Homo sapiens: one gene and its partner. Each later gene encodes a partner of the first gene's protein in a complex. Each region holds a gene or a part of one and is shown in the gene's direction. Other genes may lie near its edges.

Region 1 (7,268 bases):
GTCACTGCCTTCCTAGCTCTGCACATCCACAGATGGTCAGGGGCGGACAGAGCTGGCCTCTGCTCTGCAGCTCAGGCTGCGCTCTGCTCCCTTGATGTTGTGTCGTAGGATGTCGTCCCTGGCACTCCGGTCATGCTGGAGTGAAACGGCAGCTACCTTCATGTAATTCTGTTTCGTTGGTCTTTCTGCTCACCTTTGAGCCCTGGCTCAAAACTGTACTTTCAGGAAGTTGATAGCCTCTACTTTTGAAGCAGTCATTGATACCACATCCCCTTTGCCTTTGGCGTTCTGTGATTACTAAGTTAATCTACTGTCTCTCTTTCGTGGATGTTTGGGATATGCCCATACAAGGGTCTTCGCCTCATGGAACCTTGGAAGCCTTGCCTCCTACAGCCAGAGCGGGCGCTTGGTCCTCAGGGAATGCTGAGGCAGGACCATACTCAGGCACACTTAAAATCCTAGGGAGATTTTATCAAGTCTGAGATGCTGTCAGCCGTGAGATGCACCATTGTTTTGTGTCACTAAAAATGGAAGAACAGCCAGGCACGGTGGCTCATGCCTCTAATCCCAGCACTTTCGGAGGTTGAGGCGGGCGGATCACTGGAAGTCAGGAGTTCCATCCTGGCCAACACGGTGAAAACCCATGTCTACTAAAAATACAAAAATTAGCCGGGCATGGTGGCAGACGCCTGTAATCCTAGCTACTCAGAAGCTGAGGCAGGAAAATTGCTTGAACCTGGGAGGTGGAGGTTGCAGTGAGCCAAGATTGCACCGCTGTACTCTAGCCTGGGTGACAGCAAGACACTCCATTTCAAAAAACAACAGGAAGGGAAGAACAGGGCTACCAATTAAATTGTGACTTACCAGTTTTAAAGTTCCAATTTCATGGATTTTAAAATGTGCTTCATAAAACTCTGTACCTGTTTAGTATCCCTTGTCCAAACTTCTTGGGTTCTGAAGTGTCTCATATCTTGGGTTTTTTTGGATTTTGGAATATTGCCAAAATGCTCCAATGAGCATTTCCTTTGAGCTTCATTTTGACACTCAAAAAAAAGTTTCCGATTTTGGAGCATTTCAGATTTTCAGGTTAGGGATGCTTCACCTGTAGTTGGGTGTTCAAGGCATCAGATTTTACACTTTCAGGTTGCAATTCATTAATGAAGGTCGTTTGACTAATTGCCTTCAAAAATTGAATTTTTGACATTTCTCTAGAATTTTTGAAATTTTCTAGAATGGAATTTCTCTAGAAATAATATTCTCGCCAGGCGCGGTGGCTCACGCCTGTAACCTCAGCACTTTGGGAGACCAAGGCAGGTGGATCACGACGAGATCAGGAGTTTGAGACCAGCCCGGCCAATATGGTGAAACCCCATCTCTACTAAAAATACAAAAATTAGCCAGGCTTGGTGGCGTGCGCCTGTAGTCCCAGCTACATGGGAGGCTGAGGCAGAAAAATCACTTGAACCTGGGAGATGGAGGTTGCAGTGAACCAAGATTGTGCCACTGCACTCCAGCCTGGGCGACAGAGTGAGACTCTGTCTCAAAACCAAACAAACAAACAAAAAAGAAATAATATTCTCTGCGATAACCCTGTCAGTAAAATCTGTTGCCAGAAACTTATCTTGTTAAAGTAACTTCTTGATTATATGGAGAAATAAAAGTGAAAGCACGTAATACAGTAGTAGTAAAAGCAAAGCACCTGTGTATTATTAGGAATTCACTCACTAGCCATTTCTGAACTTTCAGTCCTTCAGCTGTGGAAGAGGATGAAGATGAAGATGGTCATACTGTGGTGGCCACAGCCCGAGGCATATTTAACAGCAATGGGGGCGTGCTGAGTTCCATAGAAACTGGTGTTAGTATAATTATCCCTCAAGGAGCCATTCCCGAAGGAGTTGAGCAGGAAATCTATTTCAAGGTCTGCCGGGACAACAGCATCCTTCCACCTTTAGATAAAGAGAAAGGTAAATGTGTTTATTTTTCTCCTTAGTTTTGATAACTTAAGAGTTGCCCTGTGTGCACTTCAGAGCTTATAGTGCTTGGCTAATAATGCAGCACCTCTCTATCTCCAGATGAGTGCTGTAGCGAGGGGTGCCCTGGGGACGGTGTTGCAAGCAAGCAGTGGGTGGCCTGAAGCAAGGCTGTGGTGACCACACTGCCTGCTTTTACTTTTGGTGTGAAATAAAAAATGATGGCATAGGACAGGCCACGGGATGTCTCACCTGCTGAGCAGCCTAGGCTGACCTAACCAAATTTGTCTTTGAATCAGTCAGCCTTTGCGTCTCTGGAGATGGGTTAGGTAACACCCACTCAGAAAGGCTTTGCTGTGCCTTCACCTGATTGGAGAACCTAAACCTCTTGACAGGTACTGTCTTATTCATCACCCCAGAACCTAGCACTAGTACATGCTCAGCAGAGTGCATGAAGGAGTCTCAGAGGAGATGACAGCATGTTTCTGAGCTTCTTAAGGAAACTTATTTTCATAATCCTCCTGGATCTACCAGGATATTATAACGAAGTGTGTTGTGATTTAGCATCTTTTAGCAGTGCTTTTACTTCCTAAACAAATTTAGTTCGCTTTTTTGTATTTTGCCGGAATACTGACATCTGATTCTGTACTCTGATTTTGGGGATATCCTGTTTTAAAAACCAGTAGGACTGACTGTGTTGGCCCTGCATGAATCTCTTTAACCACCTATGGAGCAAACAAAACATTTTGAAAATGGAAAATATATCACATTCGCAACAAGCACATTTGAATATGTTTTTTATTATAGACCCATATGATTGAATGCAGTAGCCACTGCCTGCACGTGGCTAGCTAGCACTTGAAGTGTGACAATTTGGGATTGAAAGATGCTGGAAATGTGAAATACACACCAAGTTCCAAAGATTTCATATATTGATTACATGTTGAAATAACAGTGTTTTCGTTATATTGAGTTAAAATATTAAAATATTGTAAGATTTGATATCACTTGTTTCTTTTTACTTTCTAACGTGGCTACTGGGAAATTTAAGATTCCATATGTGGCTGCTGTTACGTTTTTTTGTGGTCAGTGCGACTGTAGAGAACTAACTCCATTAGGCTTTCAAGCATATAATTAGAAGCAGGGTGAGGAAAACTGGGATTCTAGAAGAAAGACCACATCCATCCTCTCTGCCTATCCCCTTTTCCAACTCCAGGTGAAACACTGCTGAGTCCTTTGGTGATGTGTGGTCCCCATGGCCTCAAGTTCCTGAAGCCTGTGGAGCTGCGCTTACCACACTGTGCGTCCATGACTCCTGACGGTTGGTCTTTTGCTCTAAAATCATCCGACTCCTCGTCGGGTATGCTGTCTTCACTCTGTCCTTTGGGAGCTTTGGGGACTGTCGTTGATTAATACCTGGGCTGATGATGCTGCCCATGCTGTGTGTTAGCAAATCTCTATCTCTGTTCCTGTGGCCTTGTAGGCATCACCAGTGTTTTCACATTTATTTGTGGTGCATATATTGTAAATAAATATGGAAAGGTAGAAGACTTTCTGCCTTTTAAAAATTGATAATTTGGGCCGGGCGCCGTGGCTCATGCCTGTAATCGCAGCACTTTGGGAGGCTGAGGCAAGTGGATTACCTGAGGTCAGGAGTTCAAGACCAGCCTGACCAACATGGTGAAACCCCATCTCTACTAAAAATACAAAAATTAGCCAGGCGTGGTGGCACACACCTGTAATCCCAGCTACTCGGGAGGCTGAGGCAGGAGAATTGCTTGAGCCAGGGAGGCGGAGATTGCAGTGAGCCAAGATCGTGCCACTGCACTCCAGCCTGGGCAACAGAGCGAGACCGTCTCAAAAAAATTTTTTTTTGATAATATGGCCAAATATTGACTATTTCTTGGTGTTCAGAAAAATGATTTATTCTGTCAAATTTTTCAGGATGCAGTGGGAGATATTGTCCTGCACAAATAGGCATTTTTACCTTATTAAAATGACTTTGTTCCTTTATATAACTATTTCTATTTTTGGTTACTATTGTTTAATTTATTTTTTGTTTGTTTGTTTTGATTTGGTTTTTTGAGGTGGAGTCTCGCTCTGTCGCCCAGGCTGGAATGCGGTGGCACGATCTCAGCTCACTGCAACCTTCGCCTCCCAGCTTCAAGCGATTCTCCTGCCTCAGCCTCGATTACAGGTGCCCACCACCATGCCTGGCTAATTTTTGTACTTTTAGTAGAGACGGGGTTTCACCATGTTGGCCAGGCTGGTTCGAACTCCTGACTTAAAGTGATCCACCCGCCTCGGCCTCCCAGAGTGCTGGGATTACAGGTGTGAGCCACCGTGCCTGGCCTGTTTAATTTCTTAATCTACAACGTATGTATACCAGAGAAACTTAACAAGATCTTCCGTTGTGATCATACTTGGCCATGGTTTTTCAGTGTAATACTCTAAATTACTTCTTTTATACACTATTTGTAAATGACTTTTTCTCCTGAGATAATTTCAAAGCTTCCACTGCATTTTCACATTTCTCACTTCCTTGAGTGACTTAAGTCAGTTAATAATTAGAATTTTATTTTGGGTGTAGATCACTTTAAGCGAACCTGATTTAAAGTCTAGCTTCCAAATCTTTGATAAATCAGATGAGCATTATTTAGTTTTAGTTTGGTACAGTATGAAATAAAAGTTTGTGGTCTAAAGATTATAGCAAGAGCATATTTTAATGTTATCAGAGGAAAAAATTACATGTAAATACATATTTCCTCATATTTACAAGTACCCCATTTTCTGGAAAAATGAAATGCTTTTGGCTCCAGATATTGCTTAGGTAATGTCTAACGTACTGTAAGCAAAGTTCTCAGCTGGCACTGTTGACATTTTGGCCAAATGATTGTTGTAGGGCCCTCCTGTTCGTCGTGGAATATTTAGCAGCTTCCCTGGGCCTCTACCCCTAGATGCCAGTGGTAACAAGCAAAACTGTCTCCAGATGTCCCATCAGGGGCAGGGTCATTCCTGTTTGAGAGCTACTTCTGTAAGGGAAGCAAACGTCCACAGCTGTGACTCTCAGCTTGCTTGGACACCACAGAGACATATAGTCGTCCCTGCCTTCACATCTAATAGAAATCACCAAGAGCTTATTAAAAACTTAAATCCTGAGACCTAACTAACACCCAGTCAATGAGTTTTTGAAGCTGCATGATTAATTTTGTTGTCCAGCTGGAATCAGAGCTGAGCAGCTCTGGTGCAGTCTCGTTTTTTTGCTTGTTTTTTGTAAGGGGGAAGACAGTCTTCAAGAACTAGATTCTGCAGAACTGGGCTTCATTTGTTGGTTTATAGTTGAGTGTGAGAAATGTGTCCTCATTCTCAGCTCAAATAGGTGATCACATAATTATCCTCCAGACTTTCGAAACTGGAAAAAAAAAAAAAGTGCTACTGATAATTATGTGGGCTCTGGCAAACTGGGACTGTCCCAGGCATAAGATTGCCATCACTCACTTGTATTCATTTTTTGAAAAGGCCAATGCACTTGATAATGTAATAAAGGAGAAGTCTGAAAATTAAAAACAAAAAACAAAAAACTGTTCTTAATGGTGTGAGTTAGAAAGAACGTTTTAAAAAAAATTTTTTTAGAAGTGTGAAACACCTTTGGAATTGTTAGATGCCAGCAGATCTGCTTTGAAATACAGCAATGTGTTTTGATACAAATTCAATATGCTGAAGAAACAGAAGAAAATTATGTCTAAATATACGTATTTGCCCTATAATTGCAAAGCATTACGGATAGCAGTTTACTGAACTGTAAATGACATCAACTTCTTTTCTCTCATAGGTGATCCTAAAACCTGGCAAAACAAGTGTCTTCCCGGAGATCCAAATTATCTCGTTGGAGCAAACTGTGTTTCTGTCCTTATTGACCACTTTTAACTCTTGAAATATAGGAACTTAAATAATGTGAAACTGGATTAAACTTAATCTAAATGGAACCACTCTATCAAGTATTATACCTTTTTTAGAGTTGATACTACAGTTTGTTAGTATGAGGCATTTGTTTGAACTGATAAAGATGAGTGAGCATGCCCCTGAACCATGGTCGGAAAACATGCTACACACTGCATGTTTGTGATTGACGGGACTGTTGGTATTGGCTAGAGGTTCAAAGATATTTTGCTTTGTGATTTTTGTAATTTTTTTATCGTCACTGCTTAACTTCACATATTGATTTCCGTTAAAATACCAGCCAGTAAATGGGGGTGCATTTGAGGTCTGTTCTTTCCAAAGTACACTGTTTCAAACTTTACTATGGCCCTGGCCTAGCATACGTACACATTTTATTTTATTATGCATGAAGTAATATGCACACATTTTTTAAATGCACCTGGAATATATAACCAGTGTTGTGGATTTAACAGAAATGTACAGCAAGGAGATTTACAACTGGGGGAGGGTGAAGTGAAGACAATGACTTACTGTACATGAAAACACATTTTTCTTAGGGAAGGATACAAAAGCATGTGAGACTGGTTCCATGGCCTCTTCAGATCTCTAACTTCACCATATTACCACAGACATACTAACCAGCAGAAATGCCTTACCCTCATGTTCTTAATTCTTAGCTCATTCTCCTTGTGTTACTAAGTTTTTATGGCTTTTGTGCATTATCTAGATACTGTATCATGACAAAGACTGAGTACGTTGTGCATTTGGTGGTTTCAGAAATGTGTTATCACCCAGAAGAAAATAGTGGTGTGATTTGGGGATATTTTTTTCTTTTCTTTTCTTTTCTTTTTTTTTTTTTTTGACAAGGGGCAGTGGTGGTTTTCTGTTCTTTCTGGCTATGCATTTGAAAATTTTGATGTTTTAAGGATGCTTGTACATAATGCGTGCATACCACTTTTGTTCTTGGTTTGTAAATTAACTTTTATAAACTTTACCTTTTTTATACATAAACAAGACCACGTTTCTAAAGGCTACCTTTGTATTCTCTCCTGTACCTCTTGAGCCTTGAACTTTGACCTCTGCAGCAATAAAGCAGCGTTTCTATGACACATGCAAGGTCATTTTTTTTAAGAAAAAGGATGCACAGAGTTGTTACATTTTTAAGTGCTGCATTTAAAAGATACAGTTACTCAGAATTCTCTAGTTTGATTAAATTCTTGCAAAGTATCCCTACTGTAATTTGTGATACAATGCTGTGCCCTAAAGTGTATTTTTTTACTAATAGACAATTTATTATGGCACATCAGCACGATTTCTGTTTAGATAATACACCACTACATTCTGTTAATCATTAGGTGT
Region 2 (8,185 bases), on another chromosome or scaffold:
TGCCCAGCCCACTATCCTTCTAATTTTTTTTTTGAGACCAAGTCTTGCTCTGTCCCCAGGCTGGAGTGCAGTGGCGCAATCTCGGCTCACTGCAACCTCCAACTCAGCCTCCCAAGTAGCAGGGATTACAGGCTCACACCACCACGCCCAGCTAATTTTTTGTATTTTTAGTAGAAATGGGGTTTCACCATGTTAGCCAGGCTGGTCTCAAACTTCTGACCTCAGGTGATCCACCTGCCTCACCCTCCCAAAGTGCTGGGATCATAGGCGTGAGCCACTGTGCCCAGCCCACTGGCCTTACTTCTTCTTTTTTTGAGACGGAGCCTTGCTCTATACCCAGGCTGGAGTGCAGTGGCACAATCTCCACTCACTGTAACCTCCAACTCCCTGGTTCAAGCAATTCTCGTCTCAGCCTCCGGAGTAGCTGGGATTACAGGCATGCGCCACCACGCCCAGCTAATTTTTGTATTTTTAGTAGAGACGGGGTTTAGTGCTGGGATTACAGGCGTGAGCCACTGCACCTTACTACTTCTTTTTTTTTTTTTTTTGAGTTTTGCTCTTGTTGCCCCAAGCTGCAGTGCAATGGCATGATCTCAGCTCACTGCAACCTCTGCCTCCCAGGTTCAAGCAATTCTCCTGCCTCAGCCTCCTGAGTAGCTGGGATTACAGGCATGCGCCACCACACCCATCTAATTTTTTGTATTTTTAGTAGAAATGGGTTTTCACCATGTTAGCCAGGCTGGTCTTGAACTCCTGACCTTAGGTGATCTGCTCCCCTCGGCCTCCCAGAGTGCTGGGATTACAGGCGTGAGCCACCGCGCCTGGCCAACTGTCCCTACTTCTAACGGCATGGATTAGTTTTGCTTGTTTTTTTTTTTTGTTGTTGTTGTTTTGTTTTTTTTTAAACGCGGTCTTGCTCTGTAACCCAGGCTGGAGTGCAGTGGTGCAGTGGTTCAGTGGCACAATCACAGCTCACTGCAGCCTCAACTTCCCCAGCTCAAGTGATCTTCCCACCTCACCACCTCAGCCTCTGGAGTAGCTGAGACTCCAGGCACATGCAACCATGCCTGGCTAATTTTTGTATTTTTTGTAGAGGTAAGGTTTTGCCATGTTGCTAAGGCTGGTCTTGAACTACTGAGCTCAAGTGATCCGCCCACCTTGGCCTCCCTAAGCGCTGGGATAACAGGCATGAGCCACAGCACCTGGCCAGTTTTGTCTGTTTTTGAAGTTTTTGTAAATGAAAACTTTTGTGAGATCCATCTTATGTGTAAATGTAGATTGTTCATTTTCATTGCAGCATAATGTACGTAACACAATTTAGCCATTCTACGGTTGACAGGCATTTTGGGTAGTTTCTAGTTTTTTGACTTATTATAAATAGTGCTGCTATGAATACTCTAGTACAAGTATTTTGGTGAACATTTGTACACATTTTCGTGGAATTGCCATGGAATTCCAAAGGCATAGTGTATTCATAGGTTCAGCTTTAGTAGTGTAGTGGCGGAAAGGTGTGACACCTTTCCTCATCCATCATAAGGATCACAGCTGACACTCCTATAACAAAACCCAGATTAACAAGAGAAGGGCATAACCAAGTTATTTAACCAAAGTTTTATGTAACACAAGAGACTTCGGAAATTAAGACCTCAAAGGGCCGAGTGCGGTGGCTCACACCTGTAATCCCAGCACTTTGGGAGGCCTAGGCGGGTGGATCACGAGGTCAGGAGTTCAAGACCAGCCTCACCAACATAGTGAAAACCAGTCTCTACTAAAAATACAAAAAAAATTAGCCGGGCGTGGTGGTGTGCGCCTGTAGTCCCAGCTGCTTGGGAGGCTGAGGCATGAGAATCAGTTGAACCTGGGAGGCGGAGGTTGCAGTGAGCCGAGATCATGCCACTGCACTCCAGCCTGGGTGATGGAGAGAGACCCGGTCTCTCTCTCTCTCTCTCTCACACACACACACACACACACACACACACACCCTCAATACCCTAGAACAATTGTTTTTATGCTTAGGTTCAATGCAGAATGGACAAGCAGAATGTGATCAGACAAAAGGGGTATGATCTAATTTAACAGACTGAGCGGGGAACCCAACAAGGCTTGTCGGTTCAAATTCTTCTTGGCTTCCCAGTGTAACATTCCTTCCTCCAGGGTATTCCTTCCTGGTTCCTCTGGAATGAGGGTCTTCAAGGGGGAGGAGAGAAGGGGGAGAGTGACCTTTCTGGTTTTATGGCTTGCTTTGGGGGAGAGGGGTTCTAGTTTCTATGACCCGCCTTGGGGAAGAGGAATTTTTATTTCTATGACTCGCTTCAGGGGAGAAAGGGGCGGGAGACAGGAGGGCAGGAGAAGGTCAGAGAGAGACTTTGCTTCTGAGGCCTTCCAATCTCCTTTAGTTCAAAGCACTCAGCACGCCAAAGCTCCATACTTTGGGATATTGTTTTCTTTCTTTCTTTTTTAAAGAGATGGGGTCTCGCTCTGTCTTCCAGGCTGGAGTGTAGTGGCATAATCATAGCCCACTGCAGTTTCCTGAGTAGCTGGGACTACAGCCACCACGCCCTGGGAAATCATTTTCTGAGCCTCAACAGTAGATATTGCCAGTTTTGCAAAGTCCGCTGGGCACGGTGGCTCATGTCTGTAATCCCAGCTCTTTGGGAGGCCAAGGCGGGCAGATCACTTGAGGTCAGGATTTGAGACCAGCCTGGCCAACATGGTGAAACCCCCTTTCTACTAAAAATACAAAAATTAGCCAGGCATGATGGCGGGCACCTGTATTCCCAGCTACTCCGGAGGCTGAGGTAGTAGAATCTTTTGAACCTGGGAGGCGGACATCGCAGTGAGCCGAGATCACCCCACTGCACTCCAGCGTGGGCGACAGAGTGAGACTCTGTTGCAAAAACAACAACAAAGTGATTTAGGCCAGGCACGGTGGCTCATGCCTGTAATCCCAGCACTTTGGGAGGCCGAGGCAGGCGGATCACAAGGTCAGGAGATCGAGACCATCCTGGCCAACATGGTGAAACCCTGTCTCTACTAAAAATACAAAAATTAGTTGGGCGTGGTTGCGTGCGCCTGTAGTCCCAGCTACTCGGGAGGCTGAGGCAGGAGAATTGCTTGAACCGGGGAGGTGGAGCTTGCAGTGAGCCTAGATGGCGCCCACTGCACTCCAGCCTGGCGACAGAGTGAGACTCTCCCTCAAAACAAAACAAAACAAAAAAGTTATTTGTACTAGTTTACAGTTGCAGGCTGTGAGAATTTTAATATTTTATTCAACAGGTACAATGATGTTGTTTCCTGTGTTATTTTAGTTACATGCTATTTATTATTTCCAGGTATTTTCAGAGTTTTCACCCTGGTCATTTTATTTTTTTCACTTATTTTTTTGAGACAGGGTCTCACTCTGTCGCTCAGGCTGGAGTGCAGTGGCGCTATCTCAGCTTACTGCAGCCTTGACCTCCCGGGCTCAAGCGATCCTCCCACCTCATGCTTGGAGTAGCTAGGATCACAGGTGCGCGTCACCACACCCGGCTAATTTTTGTATTTTTTGTAGAGATGGGGGTTTTGCCATATTGTCCAGGCTGGTCTGGAACCCCAGGGCTCAAGCAATCCGCCTGCCTAGGCCTCCCAAAGTGCTGGAATTACAGGCGTGAGCCACCGCGCCCATCCCACACTTGTCATTTTAAATACATCTGTAGAGAGGCAATGTGATAAGGCGTGGGGACAGACTACAGCAATCACAGGGAGAAGTACTTAAATGCTCCGAGGCCAAGCAGGTCATGAAATGATTTAAGCAGCTGAGTGGGGACATTGCCTACCCGGACAAGGTGACTCAAGAGGAGCTGCCATGTGAAAAGAGAAGCTCAAAGTAAGCAGCTTTTGACTTTTTAGGGAGGCCAGAAATCTGGATTTTAATATTTTGGTAACTAATTCATATTTTTGGAAAACATACTGGCCACACAAAACTGGTCAGTGCATTAGATGCCTAGCCTTCAAGATTTCCACTCTGGGGCTACCCCTTAGGGCTTGGCTTTGGGTGGGGGAGTTTGACTTGCAGCAAGTAACCTCACTTGTTAGCGCTTAATTTCCCCTCTGGTCAAAAGGGCAAAATAATAAAAGCCTGTCCATCGGCATTCTGATGCTCAGATGAGATCATTCCAGAGGTCGCCCATCTCTTTACTGAGCCTTCCTTTATTACCCAAAGTCTTACTCTACTTAAAGCATTTGGAGAATTTTCGGTTTCCTACTGGGCATTTTAAAACTGGGGATTCCTATGCATGAAAATTTTTCCCAAGTCCTCTGAATGGGATCCTGCTGGGATGCAAAGAGTTAAGAGGAAATAGCCTATTAGGGTCTTGCTAATCCGAGAAGTTCAGGACCTGAAAAGTATCTAGAGCACTGCTAAGAGCCCCGACTCTAGCTAGATCCACGCAGGGCCCGCCAGATCCTCGAGGAATTGTAGAGCAGAACCTGGGAGGAGACATTAGCATCCCGTGCTACAATGGACCAAGGCCTCGGCGGAGCGCGCAGAAGACAACTCTGGGCCCGCTAAACCAACCCAGGATACCCAGGTAAGGCGAGAACCCACGGCGCCGTTAGCGGCCCGCTCAAACTGAGGCGCGGCTGGCGGGGGACTCTCGCCCGAAAATCAGCTTGGAAGAATGAACTGTCCGGAGCGAAGTCTGCGCCCACCCGGGGTCCAGACTCCACGCGGGTGACTCCCACGCGCGCCGCGCCTCCGCCGCGTCCCGGACTATCCGAGAGAGCGGCGAGGACTCGACCGCGGAAAGTTGGCGCTCGCGTCGCTTCCCGCGCGTTCTGGGGCGCCCCCCTCCCACTCGAGCGCCACGTGCCGCGCGCCCCCCGCTCCCGGGCCGCGGCGGGACGCCCCCGCCCCCACCGCAGCGCGCAGTGCGCAGGCGCCTTCCCGCGGGTCGCGGCGGCGGGAGCGGGAGGCGGCGGCGGCGGCGGCAGCGGCGGGAGCGGCTTCTGCCTCGGCTGGAGACTGAGGCGAAGGCGGCAGCGGCGGAGGAGGTGGAGGAGAGGCGAGGGTGAAGGCGATGGCGACGCGGGGCACATGAGGCCGCGACCGGCGGGACGGGCCGAGGCCCGGCGGAGGAGGCGGCTCCGGGGGAACCCGCCGCCGGGTGAGGGGCGGCCGCAGGGCCGGCTGAGGAGAAGCGGGCCAGGGGCGGGGTCCCAGGGGGAGGCGGGAGAACTCTTGGGGAGCCCGGGGAGGGGCCGAGGAGAACCTCCGGAGGTCCGGGGAGGAGCGCGGCCAGAGCGGGAGAAGGAGGGGGGCGCCGCCGAGGGGTTCCCGCCGAGTCCGGAGGGGCGTCGCCGGCCCGCGTCCTGCCACTGTCCCCGGCGCACCCTCCCTCTTTGTCCCCAGGCGCGCGGCTCCCAAATCGGGAGGGAAACGGCTCGGGGGTGTCCTGGGCCGCGGAGGTGTCGGGCGACGGTCGGGGAGCCCGGACAGAAGCGGCGCGCACTCGGCGGCGCCCCGGCGGTGCCGACAACTACCCGGGCGGTTAGGGGCGCAGGGCGGAGCCGGGCCGCCCCTCGCCGCCCGGGCTCTTCGCGGGCTGCTCTTTGTCTCCCCGACCTCGATCCCTGCGTCTCCGGCGGCGTGCGGGCTCGTCTGAGGCTTCCCGCATCTCCCCGCTGGAACTCCTGCCTCCCGGGGGTTAGAGGAGGGTTCGTTCGAGGGCTGGAAGCGGGAAAGCGGGGCGGAAGGACTGGGCTCATCGCCTCCTGATTAACTCGTTGTCTTTACTTAAAATGACTTTTCCCCCACTTTGTCAAACTTGAGAACTGTTTTGTGTGTGTGTGTGTTTCCTTAAGTCTCTAGCTTCAAAATTAAGAGTAGGCGCTACCGCTGTGATTGTGGGCAGTTGTGTGGTTGGCGGCTGCGTTTGGAGCTCTGAGTTGAAAAGATGTACGTGAATGTATGGTTTAGATTTTGTTCTTTTTTTTGCGATTGTCTGATTGGGAGTACTTTTCCTTTGCGAAATGGGCGAATTTGGTTTTCTTTTTGTTCATTGAGAACTGGCAGTGATACCGATTTCATTATGCTCATGCTTAATTTTGTTAGCATCAAGACGATGTGAAATCGAGTAAGTTAAGTTTGAATAAGTTCAGGCTGAGGGTCATCTTGTATGCCTGATAAGTCTAAATTTGTTATATGTTTGTGTCGTGTATACGTTCAAGTGAATATATGTGAAAGCGCTATAAAAAATCAAACTACATAAATGAAAGGGATTTTAATTTCCTGATAAGCAGGAAACAGCATATCTCCAGTACTTTAATATCTGTAGAAAAATGCGTTAATAATGTCATTTAGGAATAAAATATTTCTCTCCCTAGAGAGGGTTTAGGTATTATTCAGAGTAAAAGAGCAAAAAAATTTCAACCTCAGAGGGTATGGAAAAAAACAGAAAAATACCCTTACTTCCAGAGCTCCTGATTAAAATATTGTGAGTTGTGGGTTAAGTTTACTGATTTAAAAAAAACTTAGCATAGAGTTGTATCACTGCAGTTGCTTTGAATGTCTTAAGTACTGTGTAATGTCAGAATTAAACACGAACTAACTTTTCTGGGTAGAAGGTAAAAAGCTCCAATAAACAGATCTTAGTTTTCCCCAGATTTTTGTGCCCAGAGTGCTGTAGGCAAAGGGCATATTGAAGAGATACATAGAAGTTGTATGGAAGGTCTGTTAATATTTGTCCTGATTTGTAATGGCTTAATATTATTTACTACTTAAACTGTTGTGCATTTTTCCAAAGCATTTCAAACAACCTCTTCAAAAGCCAGCACTTTTAACTTTTGAGGTTGTGTGACTTAAGAATTGTTTTCTACCAGAAACAGTTCTCTTAAAAAGTTCTACCACAGTTCTCTTAAAAAGGAGCAAAGGACCTGGTAATTTTCTCTGTAATCAATTCATGCAGGTAAAATTGAGTTTTAGCCTTTAATCCAGAGGACTTAATTAACATATCTCCAGCATAACAATCTTACTTATAAATGCTGTTATCCTTTGTCAATTAAATTTTATTCTTATATTTGTATAAGTCAGCCAAAGGGAAGGAATGCAGGGTTGTGTTTCTGATTAGTCCACTTCCCCCCAGGTCCAGGCTTGCCTATCAATTGAGTAATGAGGATCTTAGAATACAGGATATATAATTTAAATCCAGAGCATCGTTCTCTTAACAAATGCTTAGTGTTTGTTCCATGCCTAATTCAATGCAAAGTGATGAGTTCCAAAAAATATTGCTTTATTTGTTGTATGTTCACATTTCAAAATTGGTGAGGTGTGTTCTTTTTTCTTTTTCCTTTTCCTTTTTTTTTTGAGATGGAGTCTTGCTCTGTCGCCCAGGCTAGAGTGCAGTGGCTGGGACTACAGGTACCCGCCACCACGCCTGGCTAATTTTTTTTTGTAGTTTTAGCAGAGATGGGGTTTCACCATGTTAGCCATGATGGTCCCGATCTCCTGACCTTGTGATCCTCCCGCCTCGGCCTCCCAGAGTGCTGGGATTACAGGCGTGAGCCACCGTGCCCGGCCATCCTTTTTTTTTTCAAAGACATTGCTATGATGCCCAGGCTGTCATAGTACACTGCAGCCTCAAATTCCTGGGCTCAAGCCATCCTCCTGCCTCAGCCTCCTGAGTATACCCAGCTAATTTCTTTTTTCTCCTCCTTTCCTGTCCTGTCCTGTCCTTCCTTCCTATAGTTAAGTTTGACTAGGGGGTATGATTACTTATTTCTGAACTTATGCTTTTCTTGTAGTGTAGAAATACATGTGGCTTCTGTTCAAAATATTTGATAAAAATTTAGGCAAAGAAAAAGCAGGAATTTTTTTTTTTTGTTTGTTTGTTTTTGAGACGGAGTTTAGCTCTTATTGCCCAGGCTGGAGTGCAATGGTGCTATCTTGTCTCACTGCAACGGTGCTATCTTGTCTCACTGCAACCTCCGCCTCCCGAGTTCAAGTGATTCTCATGCCTCAGCCTCCCAAGTAGCTGGGATTACAGGAATGCCCCACCATGCCCAGCTAATTTTGTATTTTTTAGTAGAGACGGGGTTTCACCATGTTGGTCAGGCTGGTCTCCAACTCTTGACATTAGGTGATCCGCCTGCCTCTGCCTTCCAGAGTGCTGGGATTACAGGTGTGAGCCACCGCACTCGACCAGATTAT

The links.
Region 2: the proteins of TJP1 (region 1) and GJC1 are in contact, whole or in part, in a crystal structure (PDB 3SHW), measured with the Homo sapiens proteins. Residues at the interface, in NP_003248.3 of Homo sapiens: Lys429, Ser432, Val433, Gly434, Leu435, Arg436, Leu437, Gly449, Val450, Leu451, Val484, Leu487, Leu488, Leu549, Asn551, Gly552, Lys553; in NP_001073852.1 of Homo sapiens: Lys391, Thr392, Ser393, Val394, Trp395, Ile396.

What each region holds. Positions count from the first base shown.
Region 1 is NC_000015.10:29,700,224-29,707,491, reverse strand, and holds part of TJP1 (tight junction protein 1), read left to right. Parts: intron 1-1,746; coding exon 1,747-1,964; intron 1,965-3,186; coding exon 3,187-3,330; intron 3,331-5,802; coding exon 5,803-5,897; 3' UTR 5,898-7,268. UniProt on the Homo sapiens protein: TJP1, TJP2, and TJP3 are closely related scaffolding proteins that link tight junction (TJ) transmembrane proteins such as claudins, junctional adhesion molecules, and occludin to the actin cytoskeleton.
Region 2 is NC_000017.11:44,827,021-44,835,205, reverse strand, and holds the start of GJC1 (gap junction gamma-1 protein), read left to right. Parts: upstream 1-4,918; 5' UTR 4,919-5,144; intron 5,145-5,381; exon of another isoform or gene 5,382-5,694; intron 5,695-8,185. UniProt on the Homo sapiens protein: One gap junction consists of a cluster of closely packed pairs of transmembrane channels, the connexons, through which materials of low MW diffuse from one cell to a neighboring cell.